Linked DNA regions of Homo sapiens. The protein of the gene in region 1 interacts with the protein of each later gene in a biochemical or structural test. Each region holds a gene or a part of one and is shown in the gene's direction. Other genes may lie near its edges.

Evidence for each region.
Region 2: of the proteins of PRKCE (region 1) and IKBKB, one has a biochemical effect on the other in vitro, tested with the Homo sapiens proteins (one study listed by BioGRID).
Region 3: of the proteins of PRKCE (region 1) and GNA13, one has a biochemical effect on the other in vitro, tested with the Homo sapiens proteins (one study listed by BioGRID).

What each region holds. Positions count from the first base shown.
Region 1 is NC_000002.12:46,144,644-46,148,296, forward strand, and holds part of PRKCE (protein kinase C epsilon type), read left to right. Parts: intron 1-449; coding exon 450-588; intron 589-3,653.
Region 2 is NC_000008.11:42,277,773-42,281,425, forward strand, and holds part of IKBKB (inhibitor of nuclear factor kappa-B kinase subunit beta), read left to right. Parts: intron 1-3,653.
Region 3 is NC_000017.11:65,046,611-65,050,263, reverse strand, and holds part of GNA13 (guanine nucleotide-binding protein subunit alpha-13), read left to right. Parts: intron 1-3,653. UniProt on the Homo sapiens protein: Guanine nucleotide-binding proteins (G proteins) are involved as modulators or transducers in various transmembrane signaling systems.

The sequences.
Region 1 (3,653 bases):
AGTAGTGCCTGACTCTTAGGTGGTTTTAACCGTTTCGTTGATGTCCCTATGTGTCATGCTGGGAACCCCAGCTGATCCCCATGGTTAGTTCATGAGGGACAGGGGTAGATGCTTCTTTCTTTCATAGCAGGATCTCATTAATATGAATGTGGGTGCATAGCAGGGCTTCTATATATACCTACTGACTTAGCTCTATTAAACCACAGCAGTCTTGATATATTCCTGGGGTTACAGAAGTTCCTCCCTCTTGCTGAAGAAAGTGGAGGTGCCGTTAGGGGCTGACTAACATGAGAGAGAGCCCCTGGACTGAGATGGGTTTCAAGAAACACAAGCTTCTTTCAGGACTTTTTTGCTGGAGATTTCCCTAAGATAGGCACATACCTCCAACTCAGGAAGACTATATTGGGGTGAGTGACGTATTGACATTATGGTCCTGGCCTATCTTGCAGGGATTTGAAACTGGACAACATCCTTCTGGATGCAGAAGGTCACTGCAAGCTGGCTGACTTCGGGATGTGCAAGGAAGGGATTCTGAATGGTGTGACGACCACCACGTTCTGTGGGACTCCTGACTACATAGCTCCTGAGGTAAGACCTGTGTGCAAAGGTTCACCTCCTCCTGGTGCCAGGACCGAGGCAGGGGTCCAAACCCATGCACTGGGGTCATCTAGTGGTGCTGGGGGAAGGCTCTGGAAATCCAGGATGGATTCTAGGAAGGAGGGAGAAAAGGAAAGGAAAAAAGTTTGCTGATTGATGTCTGTCAAGAAGTCCTAGTGTTGGGGAGATGATGAGTGAAATGAGAGTAACAGGCTATTTCCCAAACCCGGGCAAGTTCACACTGAACATCTCTTTCCCATCCTAGTCCAGAACCACCAATAAATCTAGGACCAAGAAAAACGTGTTGACTTTTATTATTGTTTTCATGTCTTTAAAATCAGAACAGGGTGGGCACAGTGACTCACATCTGTAATCCCAGCACTTTGGGAGGCCAAGGCAGGTAGATCGCTTGAGCCCAGGAGTTCAAGACCAGCCGGGGCAACATGGTGAAACCCTGTCTATATAAAAAATACAAAAATTAGCCAGGCATAGTGGTGCAAACCTGTAGTCCCAGCTACTTGGGAGGCTGAGGTGAAAGGATCAATTGAGCCCAGAAGGTTGAGGCTATAGTGAGCCATAATTGCACCATTGCACTCCAGCCTGGGTGACAGAGCAAGACCCTGTCTCAATAAAAAAAAAAGTAAAAAATAAAATCAGAATAAAGGAGCATCATTGATCATGGGAGCACTTCACTTTATCAGCTACAATTTGCTAACAGTAAAACTAGGAACTGTTTGCTATTTCCTGCATAGTGGCAGTTCTATGCTGTGAGTACACAGGATGGAGCAGGAAGAGGAGAGTGACTGTGCCTCATTATATACAGATATCAGAGATGTTCACTGTGAACCACTCCAATAGGTTGCCTTTCCTGAAAGTTGTTTGGGATGTTTTGCTCAGCATGAAGTGTTTGTTTGCCTTATTCCTGCCCAAACTGAGAGATAACTAGTGTGATGTGATTCAGATTTAAGACATGGCCTGTCATAGACAATCAAAATGATCTTCATGGTTCTGAGACATGTAAGATAGGAAAGAAGTACCAATCCCCACTAAACATCGCCCATGGCGGATAGGTATTAGCACATTCAGAGCTCATTTCTTTCAGTGGGCATTGTTTGAGCACGTGCTAGGCACAAAGCAATGTGGAGATAAAGAACTGACTGAGACACTTGTCCCTATTCTAAAGAAGCTTTTGGTCTAAAGGGAGTGATAGATAAGTAAACAACTAATTAAGCAGAATAAATAGGCACATAAAAGAAGATGGTATCCTCAGGGATCAGGAAAGGCTTCTTGGAGCACCTGGTGGATGAATTGAGTTGTAAAGAATGAGGATTTCCTTTGACGGAAGGGGTGGGGAGGGTATTCCTGAAAACAACAGGATTGGAACGGGGGCAGGACAGGAAAGGAGGTTCAGTGTCCCTGGGCCCTGGATCCTTTGAGGGCAGGGTCTGTGTTTCTAATCTGGGTACTGCCAGGATCCGGCACACAAATCAGGATCTTAGAAAGGTTTGTTAAAAAATGACAACTTATGACATTCCAACATGAGCAAAGGCCAAGGGACAAAAACATCTTGGTCTTTTCCAGGACAGTTAAAAAGTGTAGCTAGATCATAGGGTTTCCTGGTGCTCATAGTAATGAATGAGATTGGGATAAAGACCCAGTGAATGTGGCTTTGATCCTGTAGGATCTGTGGACCCACTCAGGGTTTCAGTGGAGGAGAGTCCTAGTCAGATCCATCCCAGGAAGAAGGAAGGCCACAGCTGTGCAGATCAGAAGGCAGGGAGTGAGGGACTGATGGTCAGGAGGCTTCACAGACCACACAAGACAGGGGAGGCCTGAGGAACATCTCGAAGTGAAGGTGATGAGTAATAGGTAGTTTCCCTTTAGAACCTTTATCTTCTAAGAGATCTAAAGAGTAGGGATTTCAGTCTTTCTGCAAATGTATTTCCTTAGCAAGAACACTAGGAATTCAGCCTTCAAGGAGCAACAAATGAAAGCAAGAGCTTTCGACAGGGAACTGCTTTTCTCGTGTTCTTCGTTCATTCTTCATTGTCAGAATACTTAGTTCCAGTTCCTCTCTAAGTTGATGCCATCATTCATTCTTCATTGTCAGAATACTCAGTTCCAGTTCCTCTGTAAGTTGATGCCAGAGCCTAACAGTTGACAGCCCATGTTATAGTTAAGGACCCAACCCAAGACAGAACATTCACTTTATAATGAACAAAATAGCCACTCAGCTTTCATGAAAAGCAGTCCATTGGTGAGACTCACAATGAACAACTCTGATCTCTGTTCACAATGAAGCACAGACACTCTTCCTTCCTGCTCTGGCCTTCGTGCCCACCGTGCAGAAACATCTCTGCACTGGCAATGACAATCCCTGGTCTTGCTGTAGGCAAATTACAGCTGATAAAGGTATTGCTGCCTTCATCGAGGGCTACTGGGAAGATTAAATGAGATTATGCCTCTAAAGCATTAGCCCAGTGCCCAGCCCACAGGGAGTGCTGGCTAAATGGTGGCTTCATGGTTATCATCATTGTTGGGTTGTGTGATGGGATAGGAAACGCAATCCTGAGAATTGAGTCTTGAGTCCAGATTTGACCACAAATGTACACATGAGCATTTGATGACTTGATGAAGTCACAAAATGTTTTTGAGTCTCAGGTTTCTCATCTTTCACATGGGAGCCATAACTCCTTCCCTACCTACCTCATCAAGCTGCTTTGAGAATCTAATGAGATTAGAGCATGGAAATGCTTGAGAAAGCAGAAGCCTCCATTCAAATGGGAGAGGTGGTAAGGTGCTGAGCTAACCTCAAAACCAGAGACAGCTTTGGAGGCATGAGGTCTGCCCCAAGGCTTATCTTCCTGCCACATGATATGCCCCATGGCACCCCCTCTGCTTTCCCACTCCCAGCCCCTGCTTCCCAGGAAGTGGCCACCAGCCTTTGGTAATAGCATCATCAGGGCCAATGCCTTCTCCCTTCTCCCTTCTCCCGAGCTCTGACGCACTTGAGGGGTTGGCTCCAGGTGACTTCCCGTGACATGGAAGCCTTGCCC
Region 2 (3,653 bases), on another chromosome or scaffold:
TGGAGTAAGTCTTGTCAGGACCCTGCATTCCTGGTCAGCCAGGGCTGGGTCTGGCCTTTGGAGTTCCTTCAGTTCTCCTGTAGCAAGTGCCTGACGTTGTATATGTGCTAGGTGCCCCAAATCATCCACTCTGCCAGTCCACAAATATTTATCGAATGTCTATTATGTGTACATTGGTAATTAAAGCAGACCTTTGGAGAAGGGAAGGAGCCATTAGTCAACTAATTATAAATGTAAGCTCCTAAGTATGGTAAAGTGTGAGTTGGGAGAAGGACCCAGTGCACTGAGACCTTCCGTTGGGGTGGGATCAGTCAGTGTCAGAGGAGGTTCCCCAAGGAAGTGACACTTGAACTGAGGCCCTAGTAGAAGTCAGCTTGACAGAGAAGGTGGGAGGAGAGTTCCAGGCCAAGGGAGAGGCTCCTGAGGGGCCTCTGTGGAGGGCAGGTGTGGCAAGTGGGCAAGACTGAAGGCCAGCGTGGCCGGAAGGGAGGATGGGGCACAAGTGCCTGGGTGGCTGAGGGTGGACGGTGCAAGTCAGATCCTGTGGTGTTTTTTGGGCAGTTTCAGCCGAGGAGGTTTTGTTTTGATGGAGGAGCAGTGGAACGATGTTAGAGGGAGGCGCTGTGCCCATGGGGACAGATTGGGAGGGCCCAAGCAGTGGGCAGCGTGCTGGGAAAAAATCAGCTCTCGGAAGAAATGCCTTGATCCATAGTGTGCAGCAGTTCTCATGGAGTAGCTACTCCCACCAGGGCTGACTTCAAGCCACCAGTAGTTTAATAGCCCGCTCCGGCCTGATTCCTGAGTAGTTAACAACCAGCTCTCAGTGACTGCTACTACAGTGTCACTGGCTCCGTCCCAGTGATGCAGGCAGACCAGGTCTGAATGTTTTGGAGTCGTCTAGGTGAGAGATGGGGAGAGGTGGGCAGACTTAAGAGATATTTAGCCTGGTGCAGTGGCTCATGCCTGTAATCCCAGCACTTTGGGAGCAGAGGCAGGTGGATCACCTGAGGTTGGGAGTTCGAGACCAGCCTGACCAACGTGGAGAAACCCCGTCTCTACTAAAAATACAAAATTAGCCAGGCATGGTGGCGCATGCCTGTAATACCAACTACTCAGGAGGCTGAGGCAGGAGAATTACTTGAACCCAGGAGGTGGAGGTTGCAGTGAGTCGAGATCGTGCTACTGCACTCCAGCCTGGGCAACAAGAGCGAAACTCTGTCTGAGAAAAAAAAAAAGAGAGAGAGAGATTTAAGGGGTGGAATTAACAGCGCTTAGTGGTGGAGTAGAGGTGGAGGGGAGCAGGAGGAGTGGAGTGCCTGCAGGTCCTCAATGATGCCTACCCGTGAGCCCGGCCCAGGCCAGGAAGCTCTCTACCTTCCTTCCCCGTGGGTTCTCCCCAAGTTTGGGAAATCTCTAGGGCTGCTTTGGGTGCTGAGGAGAAGTCTTTGATCATTGTCCAAGTTCAGAAGATGAGCGTGTATGTTCTCTGTTGGGAACCCCTCTGTTCACAGCCTCTTAAAAGAAGCAGCTGGGCTATGGTGGTGTTGGTTCCTTGACTCTGATGGTTTTACTCCACGTAACAACAGTGTGCACTTTCCTGACACTCCATGCACTGCATCTTGTCTGCAGAAGAAGGAATGTTGTAGTTATCACAATAGAAGTTACATGAAAAAGCCCCTAAGCATGGGTATCCTCAGTCAGAGAAGTGGCCTGATAATCAGAGGCATCATTTACTGAGAACCTGCTATGCGCCAGCATCAAACTAGGTATTTACGTGCTTTCTCTCCAGCCCTCACAACTCTGAAAGGAAGTACTGTTGTCTTTGTTCCCATTTTATAGTTGAGGAGACTGAAGCACAGTCTCTGTGACTCACCCACAGACCTGAGCTCGCAAGCAAAGAGGCTAGGATTGGAACCTGCGTCTGTTCGGAACCCAACCTCATGCTTTTTCCATTGTGCCTGTGGCTTCTCTGTGGTGAGGACTCAGGGGGAGGCCTTGGTGTTCCTTAGGCTCTCATTGTTCACCACAGTCTAAACCTTTTTGAAGCAGGAAGGGGAAAACACTTCTTTATTGATTTTTTGTTGTTTGTTTTTTGAGACAGGGTCTCCCTCTGTCACCCAGACTGGAGTGCAGTGGCTCGATCAGGGCTCACTGTAGCCTTGAACTCCCAGGCTCAAGGAGTCCTCCCACTTCAGCCTCCTGAGTAGCTGGGACTACAGGCGTGAGACACCACGCCTGGCTAATTTTTTTATTTTTGTAGAGATGAGGTCTTTCTATGTTGCCCAGGCTGGTCTGGAACTCCTGGGCTCAAGCAGTCCTCCTGCCTTGGCCTCCCAAAGTGCTGGGATTTCAGGCATGAGCCACTGTGCTTGGTTGAAAAACACTTCTTTGGAGGACAAAACACTTATAAGTCTTCCTTGTTAGACAGAGAACCCCACATTGAGTGTTTCCCAGGGAGGGAGGGCAGTGAACAAGCGAGCCCCACCACAACCTGCTTCCCCTGTTCTTGTGGTTCTCCTGCCACGCGGGCCTCACCATTCCACATTGTGTCGGGACTCCCTAAGACCTCCAGCCCAGGGGTCAGCACAAACCACTTCCCAGTACCGTTTAGATAGGCTGATATTTTCAATGAGACCTTTGTTAAATACAAAGGAAGAGGAGGAGGAGATAACCGAGTGCTCCCACCTGGCAGCATGTTTTGGGAGTGGGGGCGGGAAACACGATACTCAGTCACACAGACCTGGGTTCAGATCCTGGCTCTGTCAGCGTCTTGGCTGTGGGTCCCCACTTTTTGCATGGATTATGGGGATTCTCCAATACTGATCTCCTCAGTGCTGGGTCCCCAACATGGCTGGGCAGGATGTGGGTCAGCTACCTTCTGGAAGCCACCCAGGGTACCTTGTGATATCATCATGTTCTGTGTACACTTGGCTGTGAGGAGGGCCAGGAAGCGCTGCCTGGGGCCCTGCGGGATGCTCGTTGGGGTGGAGGAGGCAGTGTGTGTACTGGCTGTTAGAAGGCAGAGTATTAACGATCCCTTCTATGAAGCAGCACGGACCTGTACTTGTCCCTTTATGGGACAAGGCAAAGCTTTCCACAGCTTATCTGTGTGCTTGGAAGCCTTAAAGCCTCTGCTCCGTTCAGTCACTTCTCTAGGGATTTATAGAGCCTGGGCCCGAGCTCTGTCAGGGATACCAGGAAAAAAGGGTCCCTGCCCTTCGTGTGCTTACTCTCTGATCACAGTGATCCAGGGAGCATTCAGAAATGCATTAAGTGAGTCTAAATCCAAGCACCGAACTGCATGGATAACAGTGGCTGCCATTTTTCCAGGGCATCATGTGGCATCTGAGCTGGGTTCCCTGTCCGCATGATCTCTCCCGAACGCTGGGGAAGGGAGGCTTCTTGGGGTGAATGGAGCTTTAGCAGGATCTGGAAAGGAGGTACACTTTCGAGGGCCTGGCAAGAAGACAGAAGCCGACTCAGGTGGGCAGAGCAGCATCTCCACAGGGCCAGAAAAGGAAGTGAGGCTGCGGTCGTTTATTCCCGGCTCCCTGTGGTCGGATGCTGTGTTTCATTTTAGCTGACATCCCTGGAGTGGATGGAGCCATCCCCATCTTATGGATGAGGACCCAGATGCTTGTACCATGGGCTTC
Region 3 (3,653 bases), on another chromosome or scaffold:
CTCCCCAAGTTCTGATTTTTCTACCTCTGTAACGTCTCTTGCATTCATTCCCTCCTTTCCTCTATTTTGTGTTCTGCTACCTCTTGCTTGGACTCCAAGGCAGTCTTGTTCAAACACAGCATTGGTTTGCTCAGAAAGCTTTGGTGGCTCACCATTGTCTTCAGAACAGAGCTCAGCTTTTTTGTGGGAGTAAAGACTCTAGCTAGCTTACCTGTGATTCCAGCAATATATTTCATTAGGCCACTGGACATACTCTGTAATCTCTTGATTCCCACATACCCTAATTTTTTGCTTCTATAGCTCTCATCATGCGTAGTCCCTCTGCCAGAATTATTCTTTACCCTATCTGTTACTAGGTCTTACCCTTCACTTAATGTAGTGATAATCACACTAAATGTGGCCCATGGACCCCATGGACTGGAATGCTTGTTAAAACAAACAAGCAGATGCTCAGACTTTATACCTGAGGATCTGATTCTGGATTCTGGGATGGGACCCAGTGATCTGTGTTTTCAGCAAATAGCCATAGGTGGTTTGGATGAATTTGCTCCATGCCCCCTCCCTTTCCCCAGGAACAGTGCCTTAGGGGCTGTGTCTCTTTATTTGAAGCATCTCCAGTCTTCTTGGCTAGAATGGAGATCTCCGTGTCCTTTGCTTTCCCTAGCATGCTTACTCCTGTCACTCCTCACAGTACCCATTATGTGTGTTAGAGTCACAGCTTTCATGTGTGGCTGTCAGTCATGTAGAAGTCCTTTGGTATGCCTAGTTTGTCTTTTTCTCTCCTACTAGCATAGTGCCTGACACTTTTATTTCCTCGTTTTTCAGACATTCTTAATTACAAAGATGTTCTAAAAAAATAAAATACCTGTAATCCCAGCTCTTTGGGAGGCTGAGGCAGGCAGATCACTTGAGGTCAGGAGTTGGAAACCAGCCTGGCTGACATGGTGAAACCCCATCTCTACCAAAAACCAAAACCAAAACCAAAAATTAGCCAGGCATGGTGACATGTACCTGTAGTCCTGGCTACTCAGGAGACTGAGGCACGAGAATCGCTTGAACTCAGGAGGTGGAGGTTGCAGTGAGTGGAGATCATGCCACTGCACTCCAGCTTGAACGTCAGAGTGAGACCCTGTCTCAAAAAAATAAAAATTAAAAAATATGTAATATAATTTAATTCTACATTAAGTTCCTTCTGGGAAATATGGATTATTTCTATAATAGTTTCCTAATTTTCTAGGAAGTGGACAGTTCTTGTGTAATTATAATTTTTATTTGGGGGGGTTGAAATGTGTTTTGTTATGTTTAGCAGCATATTTTTGAATTTTGGATAGGAAAGGTAAACATCAGAAGAAATAGAGGTTAGCAGATAAAATAACTAAAATTAAAATTAACCTTTTCGTTTCAACTAATGATTTGATTATTAAACTTATTAATGCACATTAAAAACTGACAGGTTTTAAGGCCCTACATGACTTAACATTTTGCCTAAGATGAACAACTGCCCTTTAATCAATTTTCGGGACAAGGGATAGGGTGTTGATAACACAGCTTAGGTTTTTAGCAGACTACTCATTTGTTAGTAATAACTTTGGGTGTAAACATGAATGTTTTTCTTTCTAAGTTCCCAAAGGTAAACATTTCCTTTTTTGGTTAGTTCCATCATGGGTCAGCTAAATAGCTTACTGTGGAAAAGAAAAATACAAGATTCACATTCTCGTTATAACTTAAGGTACCTTTCTAGTTATTATAAATTAGCATACTGAGGATAATAGATTGTAAGAAGTGGCCTGTTTTAGTACTGAATTAAATATTTGAAATACTCTACTCTGGCTGTACATTCAACATAGCCTGCCACTGCACTTTTGAGTTACCCTGTCTTTAGAAAACCTTCTTATGTGACAATAGCTAGATAATTTGGTAACTCAGATGAATAAAGAGATGGGAGTCAGGGGTTGGCTGGATGATACAATTGGAGATATGGATGAAAACTGACAAAATGGCTAGGAGTCATTTCCAACTATTTTTTTTTGTTTAATTTATATTCACTTATTGAGAAATAAGGCAACACTTGTTACGTAGGACAGGACAGTGTGTGTGACAGTGGGAGGAACATCCCACAGCTTCCTACTTTCTGTAAACAGTTTAACATTGTCAGCATTAATACAACTTCCTGTAATGGCCAGTCTGTCTTTGCAATTCCTGAAACCAAAGTGTTTTTGCTAATCATGGTACCTTCAGTTAGACTTAATTCTTTTCTTTTTGTGCTTGAGGTTACTCTTCTTGAAGCCGATAAGATAGTGTATTCATTAACACAGAGATTTACTCCCTCAATCTGTGTAACAAAGTAACCATTTAGCTCCATGATTGGCCTGTAAAAAGGGGAGGTCCAACTAAGTATTCTAGAAACTTCAGTTTCAGCTAATTTTTTTTATTTATTTATTTGCACTGCAGCATGTATTGGAAATATAATACAATCAAGAGTCATTTGAAGCTCCTGTAGTCCCAGCTTCTGGGGAGACAGGAGGATTGCTTGACCTCAAGAGTTCAAGTCCAATGTGGGCAACATAGTGAGGACAGCCCCCTCCCTCTTAAAAAAAAAAAAGAATCAGAGTCATTTATTAATTAATGCTAATTTGGATTTGCTTTAAATATTAAAGAATTGCTACTTTCAGTTGTAAAATACTATGTTTCTTTTGGATGATTGGTCCATTTTCTCTATAAGTATAGTCAAGCAAGGACTTTGAGTTGCTAAAAACCTATTGGTTATCTTTTGATTCTAGGATTAGTGTTAAATATTTCATCCCATCTAAAATAAAGATTATATATAACATTAGAGATAGTAGAGGTTTTTATCTTACTTTATTAATATTTTTTAGAGACAGAGTCTCACTCTGTTACACAGGCTGGAGTGCAGTGGTGTGATCATAGTTCACTGTAACCTTGGGACTCCTGGGCTCAAGTGATCCTCCTGCTTCAGCCTCCTAAAGTGCTGGGATTACAGTAGTGAGCCACCTCACCCAGCCAGAGATAGTAGAGATTTTAAAGTTGAGTTTAATTTCCTTTTGATGAAATTGATCAGATGTCAGAGTGGTTACATTTTATCCAAATCTTGTAAACCCAGAGCTTTATGTTTATTTACGTTAAAAATGAAGTTTTTTTCTTTTTAATTAATTTCTTTTTTAAAATTTCCGTCAGTTCCTTTAAGTTTACACTTATAGTTTTAATACAACTTTGTGAAGTGTGTGTGCATGCACACATAGGTGGTATCACTTGTATTCTATTATGTTGAAATTTTCATGTTCGCATTTTTTTGGGTGAAAACTTGACTGGCTGTAGGATGTCTGGGTTCTTGGTGCTAAAGCTTCCGGAATTGGAAAATACTGTGCTGCTTTCTATATTACCTTTTATTGCTAAACAAAGCTAGGGGCACAATAATTTATGATTCTCTGAAAATGTTTATTAAACAACTAAGAGATGGAACAAGTAAATAGTTTTGTTATGAAAAGTAGACTTTAGTTTCAGAACTCTTTACCTAGAGCGTGGACCTAACCCAGGAAAAAGGTTTGTGAGCTTACTTTAAAGAAAAGCATAATGGCCAAAGGACTCCTTGGATTGAATGTTCCCTGCTTATCTTTCACAGATATGCGCAGCCA